Linked DNA regions of Homo sapiens: region 1 is linked to region 2. The links come from fine-mapping of genetic effects on gene expression. A gene starts in region 2. The other region holds a variant in brackets. All regions are shown on one strand. Distances are between the middles of the regions. Region 1 overlaps CEP20 (centrosomal protein 20). Region 2 holds the start of CEP20 (centrosomal protein 20).

Region 1 (5,000 bases), 25 kb before region 2:
AGACAGCCAAGGGGAAATTTCTCTCTTATAGTCTTTTTTTGCTGTTGGCTTAAAAAAGCCCCAAAGTGGCTGGGCATGCCTGTAATCCTAGCACTTTGAGAGGCTGCAGCGGAAGGATCGCTTGAGCCCAGGAGTTCAAGAACAGCCTAGGTAACATAGCAAGATCCCTGTCTCTACAAAATAATAATAATAATAATAATAATAATAATAATAATAATAATAATAATTAGTCGAGCACAGCAGTGTGTGCCTGTAGTCCCAACTAGAGAGTGAAGTAGGAGGATTGTTTGAGCCCCAGAGTTTGAGGCTGCAGTGAACTGTGATCGTACCAGTGCACTCCAGCCTGGGCAACAGAGCAAGACCCTGTCTCAAAAAAACAAAACAAAACAAAACCATGAAGTGTGATCCCCTCCAATTTTTAGTAACATCGAAGATTGGGTCTGAGCATGGCTTACTCCTGCATGTGCCTCAAGATTTAATATTTTTTGGCCGGGCACAGTGGCTCACACCTGTAATCCCAGCACTTTGGGAGGCCAAGGTGGAGGGAACACTTGAGGTCAGGAGTTCGAGACCAGCCTGGCCAACATGGTAAAACCCTATCACTACTAAAAATACAAAAACTAGTCGGGTGTGGTTGTGCACGCCTGTAGTCCCAGCTACTTGGGAGGCTGAGACAGGAGAATCCCTTGAACCTGGGAGGTGGAGGTTGCAGTGAGCCAAGATCACACCATTGCACTCTAGCCTAGGCTAGAGAGAGAGGCTCCATCTCAAAAAAAAAAAAAAGAAGATTTAATAATTTTAAAGTGTTATCAGCCTTGATCTACTTGACTCATATAGAGTCAGGTAGATCTGGCCCAAGATCTGTGAATAAAGGAACATCGTTCCTGACCACAAGCAGGGCCATGCTCCAACTCTTGCACAAAAGCACTTTTGTTTCACTCATGGTGGCCCCCATGATGGACCTCACACTTCTCCCGATACTAGACTGCATTGCATAGTAACCTGCAATGCTCTTTCCTTCATCATCAGTTTCCAATTCTGATGTCACGATTTGGTTCATGACATTCCTGATAGATTCTCTATGTCTATCAGGAAGGGTCCTAAAACTCTCAATAAAAGTAGTTCTACAGTTTTTTAAAAATGAAACACACAGGGCACGGTTGCTCACGCCTGTAATCCCAGCACTTTGGGAGGCTGAGGCAGGTGGATCTCCTGAGGTCAGGAGTTCGAGACCAGCCTGGCCAACATGGTGAAACCCCATCTGTACTAAAAGCACAAAAATTAGCCAGGCATGGTGGCGGGCGCCTGTAATCCCAGCTACTCAGGAGGCTGAGGTGGGAGAATCGCTTGAACCTGAGAGGCAGAGGTTGCAGTGAGCCAAGATCATGCCATTGCACTCTAGCCTGGGCGACAAAAGTGAAACTCCGTCTCAATAAAAAAACAAAAACAAACAAACAAACAGAAACAAAAACAAACACGCTCTTACCATATAATCCAGAAAATTCTTCTTAGGATTTGCCCAAAAGAGTTGAAAACTTCTGTCCATACAAAACCCTGCACGCACATGAAGTTTATAACAGCTTTACTCACTATCGCCAAAACTTGGAAGCAGCCAAGATGTCCCTCAGTAGGTGAATGGATACATAACAATGGAATATTATTCAGTGCTAAAAACAAATGAGCTATCAAGGCATGAAAAGACGAAGGAAAATTACAGCTGGGCATTGTGGCTCATGCCTGTAATCCCAGCACTTTGGGAGGTCAAGGCAGATGGATCAGCTGAGGTCAGGAGTTCGAGTTCAGCCTGGCCAACATGGTGAAACCCTGTCTCTGCTAAAAATACAAAAATTAACCAGGTGTGATGGTGGACACCTGTAATCTGAGCTACTCAGGAGGCTGAAGCAGGAGAATCGCTTGAATCAGGGAGATGGAGTTTGCTGTGAGCCGAGATCGTACCACTGCACTCCAGCCTGGGTGACAGAGCGAGACTCTGTCTAAAAAAAAAAAAAGGCAGGAAGAAAACTTAAATGCTTGTTACTAAATGAAAGATGCTAATCTGAAAAGGCCACGTACTGTACGATTCCAACTATACAACATTCTGGAAGAGACAGGAATAGGTGGAGTAGAGAAGATTTTCTAGGGCAGTGACACTC[C/T]TCTGCATGATACTAAAATGGTGAATACATGTCACTAGACATCTGTCCAAAACCATGGAATGTGCAGGCAGTCCCCAACTTATAATGGTTAAACTTAACGATTTTTCAACTTTATGAAGGTGGGAAAATGGTGCATTCAGTGAAACCGTACTTTGAATACCGACAAAACCATGTTTTTTCACTTTCAATACAGTATTCAATAAATTACATGAGATGGTCAACACTTTATTATAAAATAGGATTTGTGTTTGATAATTTTGCCCAATGGTAGGCTAATCTAAGTGACCTGAACATGTTAAGTAGGCTAGGCTAAGCTAAGATGCTCGGTAGGTGAGGTGTATTAAATACATTTTGGGCTGGGCATGGTGGCTCACATCTGTAATCCCAGTACTTTGTGAGGCTAAGATGGGCAGATCACTTGGATTCAGGAGTTCGAGACCAGCCTGGGCAACATAGTGAGATCCTGTCTCTACAAAAAATACAAAAATTCACCAGGTGTGGTGGCATGTGCCTATAGTCCCAGCTATTCAGGAGACTGAGGCAAAGGACCACTTGAGCCTTGGAGGCGGAGGTTGCAGTGAGCCCAGATCGCACAACTGCACTGCAGCCTGGGTGCTAGAGTGAGACCCTATCCAATAAATAAATAAATGCATTTTGACTTATTTTCAACTTGTGATAGTTTTGAGATGTAATCCCATGAGTCAAAGAGCATCTGTACAATACCAAGAGTGAACCCTAATGTAACTATGGACTTTTTGTGATAATAATGTGTCAAAATAGATCCACCCATTGGAATACATGTGCCACTCGATGCCGGATCTTGACAGTGGGAGAAGCTAGACATGCATGGGTGCAGGGGGCAGTCAGGAGCTCTGTGCTTCCAGTCCATTTAGCCATGAACCTAAAACTGCTCTAAAAAACGAGTCTACTTTTATAAAAGTAGTTTTGTTTTGTTTTTTTTTTCCAGAGAATAGTCTCACTCTGTCGCCCAGGCTGGAGTGCAATGGCGTGATCTCAGCGCACTGCAACCTCCGCCTCCTGGGTTCAAGCGATTCTCCTGCCTCAGCCTCCCCAGTAGCTGGGATTACAGGCACATGCCACCACGCCTGGCTAATTTTGTATTTTTTGTAGAAATAGGGTTTTGCGATGTTTGCCAGGCTGCTCTCGAACTCCTGACCTCAGGTGATACGCCCGCCTTGGCCTCCCAAAGTGCCGGGATTACAGGCGTGAGCCACCATGCCCAGCCTAAAGGTAGCTTTTTTTTTTTTATTTTTTATTTTTTGAGACGGAATTTCACTCGTTGCCCAGGCTGGAGTGCGATGGCTCGATCTTAGCTCACTGCAACCCCCACCTCCACAGTTCAAGTGATTCTCCTGTCTCAGCCTCCTGAGTAACTGGGATTACAGGCGCATGCCACCGCGCCTAATTTTTTAATTTTTAGTAGAGATGGGGTTTCATCATATTGGTCAGGCTGGTCTCAAACTCCTGACCTCAGGTGATCCACCCGCTTCGGCCTCCCAAAGTGCTGGGATTACAGGCCTGAGTCACCAAGCCTGGCCAGCAGTTTTATTTCACTTTTATTTTAATAAGATTCCTGAACACCACACAATCCTCGAATCGTGGTTGTTACCAAAAAATCAAGTACCAAGTGGCCGGGAAGCATTGTCCCAAATGCCTTTAAAGGCATATTCTCACAAATGTTCATCTTTCATGTACACTTGGCTTTAAAAGAACACATCAAATTTTACATCAACATAAAGGTATGTGAGTGATACACAAATGTGTTCTTGCACATCATTATAAGGCTATTAGTTTGTTCTGTGCAAGCATATACACTAAGCTTAAATTTATCTTCTTCAAAAGCCACCTCTGCTCCTGCTATGAGGTTTTAGATCACCCAAGTTGTACATTTCCTAAATCCCTCTTCAGTTCCCATTCCCATCCTGTTTTTGTGTAAATCCAAGTTTTCTCCTAAAACTTCTGGAGCATCTCTAGAAGATAAGTTCTCCCGACAATTCCAAGAAACCCACGAGTAAGGTACTTAAATATAACACATTTATGAGAAGGGTTGGCTTGTCCTCTGTGCTTTTCCTTCCTTCCTATAAACATGTGCAGACGGCAGGAAAGTACCCCCGCCTCCACCCCTCAACAGCGAAGCTTCTGAAGATCCCGACGGAAGGCATGGCAGCCATCTCCAATCATTCTTCTGTTTTTGATGTGTGGCTTTTGATGAGAGAACAGTGATATGAACACCCTTTGCACCAAAGTGACTTGCTTATTTTTTTTATTAAATGATACATTGAAAGTATAAAAAGTTGCCGCAGTACAAACAAATTACAGAATAATGCATATAAAAGCGCTATGGACTACACGTGACAATTCTGCTTAACTTCCATCTTGATGATTTTATATCAGTATCCAAAATTATATACTCCAGCATTTTTTCCGAATATAGTCTTACATGATTGCAATTCCTGAGGTAAACTAAGTGTCCACTGCCAACATCCTTGGACGAAAACCAAGTCCCCCGGGAGAATTCAGATATTTATATTCACACATACAATACAACGGAATTCATCAATGTAATCAGATATTGCAGATTTAAAAATGGAAAATGGACTCTTGCAATACTTCTGCATCCATATATAATTTTACCAGCAGGGCCTCCCAAAATGTTGTGTAAGTATAGTTTAAATGGATTTCATTAATAAGTTTCTGCATTTAGATAAAAATTCTTGGCTAATCTGTAAGAAGTGAACACTGACTAGCATTGCCAAACAGAAAATCAAAAGTTTCAACAATTTGCAAAGCAGCACAGAATTGACACCCTAAAGAGGATGCCAATTT
Region 2 (5,524 bases):
TTTATTTTCAAACAGTTCCTACTGGCTAAATGACAACTTCAGAGAATGAACACATCTCATCCACAGAGTCAAGAACAGAGCAAGAGCTCAGTAGGTGTCACCTAGAAGGATTATAATACATTGCTGTACACTACTGGGAAATCAATGTAGTTTAACACTGTTCTGCACCCTGCCAAAGGCACCAAGTAAGTACATCACAATAACAAAAATCCATAAAGAGAGCCCAGGAGCTTATCCAAGTCAGTATGGACATAAGATCTTTCTAAGCTTCAATAAATAACGTCAACAATAACCCTGGATCATATGACTAAAGAGATAGAATCTTCACTGACTTTTGACCTTTCTTTCCCCTCATTTTTAAAGCATCCCTTCAACCTTCTTGCAGATAGGTTAAGTACAGTTATCACCAGATCAGAGTTTGTAACAGGTCCATAAAAGGAAGGTACAGCCTTATTGTACTCTTAGAATCATAACTGAACCCCTATTCTCTAATTCCATCTTTGGAAATTGGATGGAGAGATTTTGTCACTGGCAAGGATCCTGTCCCAATTACTCTGTATTGCACACAGGACAGCCTCAAACTGGACAGAGAAACGAGAATTAGTGACAGTGGAATGAGGAAAGCTAGCATGTCTCATCAGCACCTCAGTGGTGGATTACCAACCCATGCCTCAGTTGCCTTCTCTAAAATAATGAGCTCTACCTCTCAGAGATAGAACCAAGTAAGAAGGAAAAACGTGATCGTGCTTAAAAAAGGTAAATGCCCATAAAATGTAAGGTAACTGGCTGGCAAACAAGTTTTCACCGGGTTTCTTTTGGAGGTCCATAGCATTTTACCTTTCCCTCTATTATGCTTAGAACACTGCGCCATCAAAACTTCTTCGGAAAGGTCTTAACCTCGCTTATATTTCAAGAGTACCTTTTTTATTTTATTTTTTAATTTGTTTTTTTTTTTGAGACAAGGTCTCATTTTGTTGCCCAGGCTGGAGTGCAGTGGCACCACTGTAGCTCATTGTCACCTCTATCTCCTGGGCTCAAGCTATCTTCCTGTTTCAGCCTGTGGGGTAGCTGGAACTACCACAGGCCACTATGCCCGGCTCTTTTTTTTAATTTTTATTTTTTAAATAAAGATGGGGTCTCACCATGTTGGCCAGGCTGGTCTTAAACTTCTGGGCTCAAGCGATCCTCCCAAAGTGTTAGGATTACAGGCATGAGCCACTGTGCTTGGCCCATTCCAAGTGTACCTTTAAATCCTCTGAAAATGTATGCAATATTACATGTGATGTGTATTTCCCTGGGAACAGCATCTGTAGACTCGTGAAGTCTGTTCTTGTGGACAGATGCATGCCTGTTCTGTTTTATGATTGTTCACCAGCCCTGTCCCCAAATACACACTTTTATACACGTCTCCTCCCTAAAATATCTAAGAATTACTAGTTTAAACCCTGGGTTCCCTGCAAAGTGGAACTGGTTTTATTTTTTGGACAGCAATCTTGCTCAGTGATTAAGACCTGGCGCTCCAGTGCGTCACAACTAGGTTCCCATGCTGTGTCTCTTTCCAGTGAAATCACTTTGAGCTATTTCACTTCTCAGTACCTCGTTTCCCAGTCTATGAAATGGGCATAGGGTTGTTACAATCAGGTAACACACAGGCTGAGTTGAGTAGTGCCTGACACATGAGGCTCAATGATAACTATTATTACTATTACTTGTCTGGACATTTGCTTCAAAGTAAACAGCGTACAAATGTCATTAATGACTCAAACATAACTAGCTTAGAGTATCTTTTCCTGAAAAGACAGGAGAATGGCCAGGCCAGCAAACTTTTTGCCTCTAGTTTCTTCTGATGAAAAAGGGGCCAGGCGCTCACACCTGTAATCCCAGCACTTTGAGGGGGCCAAGGCAGGAGGATAGCTTGAGACCAGGAGTTCGACAGTAAGACCCCGTGTCTACAAAAAATACAAAAATTAGCCGGGCGTAGTGAAGAGCCCCTGTATTCCCACCTGCTCTGGAAGCTGAGGTGGGAGGATAGCTGGAGTCCCGGAGTTCGAAGCTGCAGTGAGCTGTGATCGCGCTACTGCACTCCAGCCTGGGCGACAGAGAGACCCTCTCTTTAAAAAAAAAAAAAAAAAGCAAGGAGGGGAGGGCTACTTAACAGGTTGTTGTAAGGACCCAACGAGACAACCAAGCAAATTGTTTAGGGCAGTGCCTAACCCAATAGGGGTTGTGGGAATTGTAGTCATCAGCCCTGAGTGCCAAGCCTGGTCCAAGTCCTCCAGCCCCCGGCAGGGTCCAAGAAGATGAGCCAGGGGCCCAAGATGCAGGCCTGTAGGCCTCTTAGATGCCTGAAGATTACGCAACTCCTCCTTTAGCTCCAAACTGGCTTAAAACTCGCCAGTGGGCAACCTCTTCCCCATAAGAGCTCCCCGCGCACGGGCCAAGACAGCAGCCAGACGCTCCCCGCAGGCCCTCACACCGAAGAATGACGCCTGTAAAAGCCAACCCATGTGTTCCGCGCGCTCTCCTCCCATCCCATCCTTTCCACAAGATGAAGGCCCGACGCTTCCCATGTGGAGGCCTCCCTGCTCGCACTCACCAGCCTTCAACTCTGCCACAGTCGCCATTTTTCAACGGCCGCCAGGGCCGCACCGCGGCCCTGCGCACGCGCAGCTCCGCCCCACTCACCCTGCGGCGTGGTCTGTAGCCAATAGGCGCACAGCTCTCGCCCCGCCCACTTCCGCCCCTCTCAGTTTATGAGCTCTGCGGTTGAGTGGGTAGTGAATGTCGACCAGAGACTCCACCAATCAGCGAGCGCTCTCGGAAGGCCCAGTTGAGTGAGACGGCAGGGAGGGCGGGGACTGAGGCAGTGGAGAGCCCTGTGGGGTGCTGCTGGCACCTTAGTGCTTAACTTTAGCCAGCTGAGTTTTTCATTGTCTCTGCAGCCTCAAGTACCAACTGCTAGTAGTTACCACCTATTAACCCTGCGGTTCTCAAACTTGAGCATGAATCCTCATCACCTCCAAGACTTGTTTAAACGGATTGTTTGCTAGTCCTCCCCATAGAGTTTCTGATTCTGTAAATCTGGGGTGAGGCCCTAGGATTTGCATTTCTATCGAGTTCCCAGGTGGTACTGGTACTGCTGGTCGGTCTGGAGATCACACCTCGAGAACCACTGTATTAAGCACTTACTGTGACGCCTTAGCGCATTATTTCCTTATGATCACGCCGTTTTTACAATGAAGGAAACAGAGTCCTCCATCGCTGAAGAGACTTAACCAAGGTCACCAGCCTGTCCTCTTCCACTCGCACTTACACAGTGCATGTAAGGAGTCCAGGAGCTTTTTATGGAACTAACTAATGAAGGAATAAGCTCCAACATCCCATGGAAGTAAAGGAAAAGGAACAGGGGAATAATGTACCCTAAACTGAGTGTGAGGTTGCATGATTCCAGTTGTAATGCCGGTGAGATCCAAACACTTGGCTAAATAATAAACATCGATTAGACGTACACCTAAGAGTGGCCGGGCGCGGTGGCTCACGCCTGTAATCCCAGCACTTTGGGAGGCCGAGGCGGGCGGATCCCGAGGTCAGGAGATCGAGACCATCCTGGCTAACACGGTGAAACCCTGTCTCTACTAAAAATACAAAAAATTAGCCGGGCGTGCTGGCGGGCGCCTGTACTCCCAGCTACTCGGGAGGCTGAGGCAGGAGAATGGCGTGAACCCGGGAGGTGGAGCTTGCAGTGAGCCGAGATGGCACCACTGCACTCCAGCCTGGGCGACAGAGTGAGACTCCGTCTCAAAAAAAAAAAAAAAAAAGTACACCTAAGAGCTGCCAGGGCACGGTGGTTTACGCCTGGAATCCCAGCACTTTGGGAGACTGAGGTAAGGAGTTCGAGAACAGCCTGGCCAGCCTGGTGAAACCCCCTCTGTACTAAAAAAAAAGTACAAAAATTAGCCGGGCGTGGTAGCAGGAGCCTGTAATCCCAGCTACTTGGGAGGCTGAGGCACAAGAATCGCTTGAACCTGGGAGGCAGAGGTTGCAGTGAGATGAGATCGCGCTACTGCACTCCAACCTGGACGACAGAGCGAGACACCGCCTCAAAAAAAAAAAAAAAAAAAAACCACCTAAGAGCAAGGAAACCTCTTTCCGAGGAACTTCCAGCATACTTTTGGTTCCATGCCTATTGTTTTTAAAACTGATACATTGGCCAGGTGCGGTGGCTCATCCCTGTAATCCCAGCACTTTGGGAGGACGAGGAGGGAGGATTGCTTAAGCTCGGGAGTTTGAGATCAGCCTGGGCAATGCAAGACCCCATCTCTCCAAAATAAATACAAAAAATTAGCCGGGCATGGTGGTGCATGCCTGTAGTCCCAGTTACTCCAGAGGCCGAGGATAGAGGATTGCTTGAGCTCAGGAGTTCTAGACCAAGCTGGGCAACATGAGACGCATTTCTACAAAAAAAAAAAAAAATTAGCCAGATATGATGGTGCATGCCAGCTACTCGAGAGGCTGAGGAGAGAGGATCACTTGAGCCTGGACGGCTGATTGTACCACTGCACTCCACTCTGGGCGACAGAGTGAGTCCCTTTCTCAAAAAAAAAAAAAAAAAAAAAAAAAAAAGAAAAGAAAAAGAGAGAAAGAAAAATTGATATATCACAATTATGGGGAGGGACGTGATATTTTGATACACATATACAATGTGTAATTATCAAGTCAAGGCAATTGGGATAAACATCACCTCAAACATTCTTTGTGTTGGAAGCATTACAAGTATTCTAGCTATTTTGAAATATACAATCAATAATTGTTAACTATTTTTTTTAAAGGGAGGGGGAACAGCCTGGGCAGCATAGGGAGAACCTGTCTTTAAAAACGAGCAAACAAGGCCGGGTGCGGTGGTTCACGCTTGTAATCCCAGCACTTTGGGAGGCCTGAGGCAGGCAGATCACAAGGTCAGGAATTCGAGACCAGCCTGGCCAACACAGTGAAACCCCATCTCTACTAAAAATACAAAAATTAGCCGGGCGTGGTGGCAGAGGCCTGTAATCCCAGCTATTCGGGAGGCTGAGGCAGGAAAATTGCTTGAACCCAGGAGGCAGAGGTTGCAGTGAGCCAGGGGTGCAGAGGTTGCACTCCAGCCTGGGGAACAGAGTAAGACTCCGACTCAAAACAAAACAAAACAAAACAAAAGAGCAAACAGCCAGGCACGGTGGCTCACGCTTGTAATCCCAGCACTTTGGGAGGCCGAGGAGGGCAGATCACCTGAGGTCAGGAGTTTGAGACCAGCCTGGCCGACATGGTGAAACCCCATTTCTACCAAAAATACAAAAATTAGCTGGGCATGGTGGCAGGCATCTGTAATCCCAGCTACTCGGGAGGCTGAGGCAGGAGAATCGTTTGAACCTGGGAGGTGGAGGTTGCAGTGAGCCGAGATCACGCCGCTGTGCTCCAGCCTGGGCGACAAGAGTGAAACTCCGTGTCAAAAAAAACCAAAACGAACAAACAAACAAAAAAACCGAGC

Evidence for each region. PIP is the estimated chance that this variant, and not a neighbour inherited with it, causes the effect. A credible set is the group of variants that fine-mapping cannot tell apart.
Region 1: its variant is the best candidate, but not a certain one, in a credible set for the expression of CEP20 in aorta (GTEx, PIP 0.68).

Annotation. Positions count from the first base shown.
Region 1 is chr16:15,861,299-15,866,298 of GRCh38, forward strand. CEP20 (centrosomal protein 20) reads right to left here. Exons shown (of 5, transcript NM_144600.4): 5 at 4,421-5,000. Among named protein-coding and RNA genes, the nearest start is that of MYH11, 6.8 kb to the left of the region's middle. The variant C/T (reference allele first, on the strand shown) is at 2,154.
Region 2 is chr16:15,885,962-15,891,485 of GRCh38, forward strand. CEP20 (centrosomal protein 20) reads right to left here and starts at 2,642. Exons shown (of 5, transcript NM_144600.4): 1 at 2,597-2,642. The coding sequence starts at 2,624.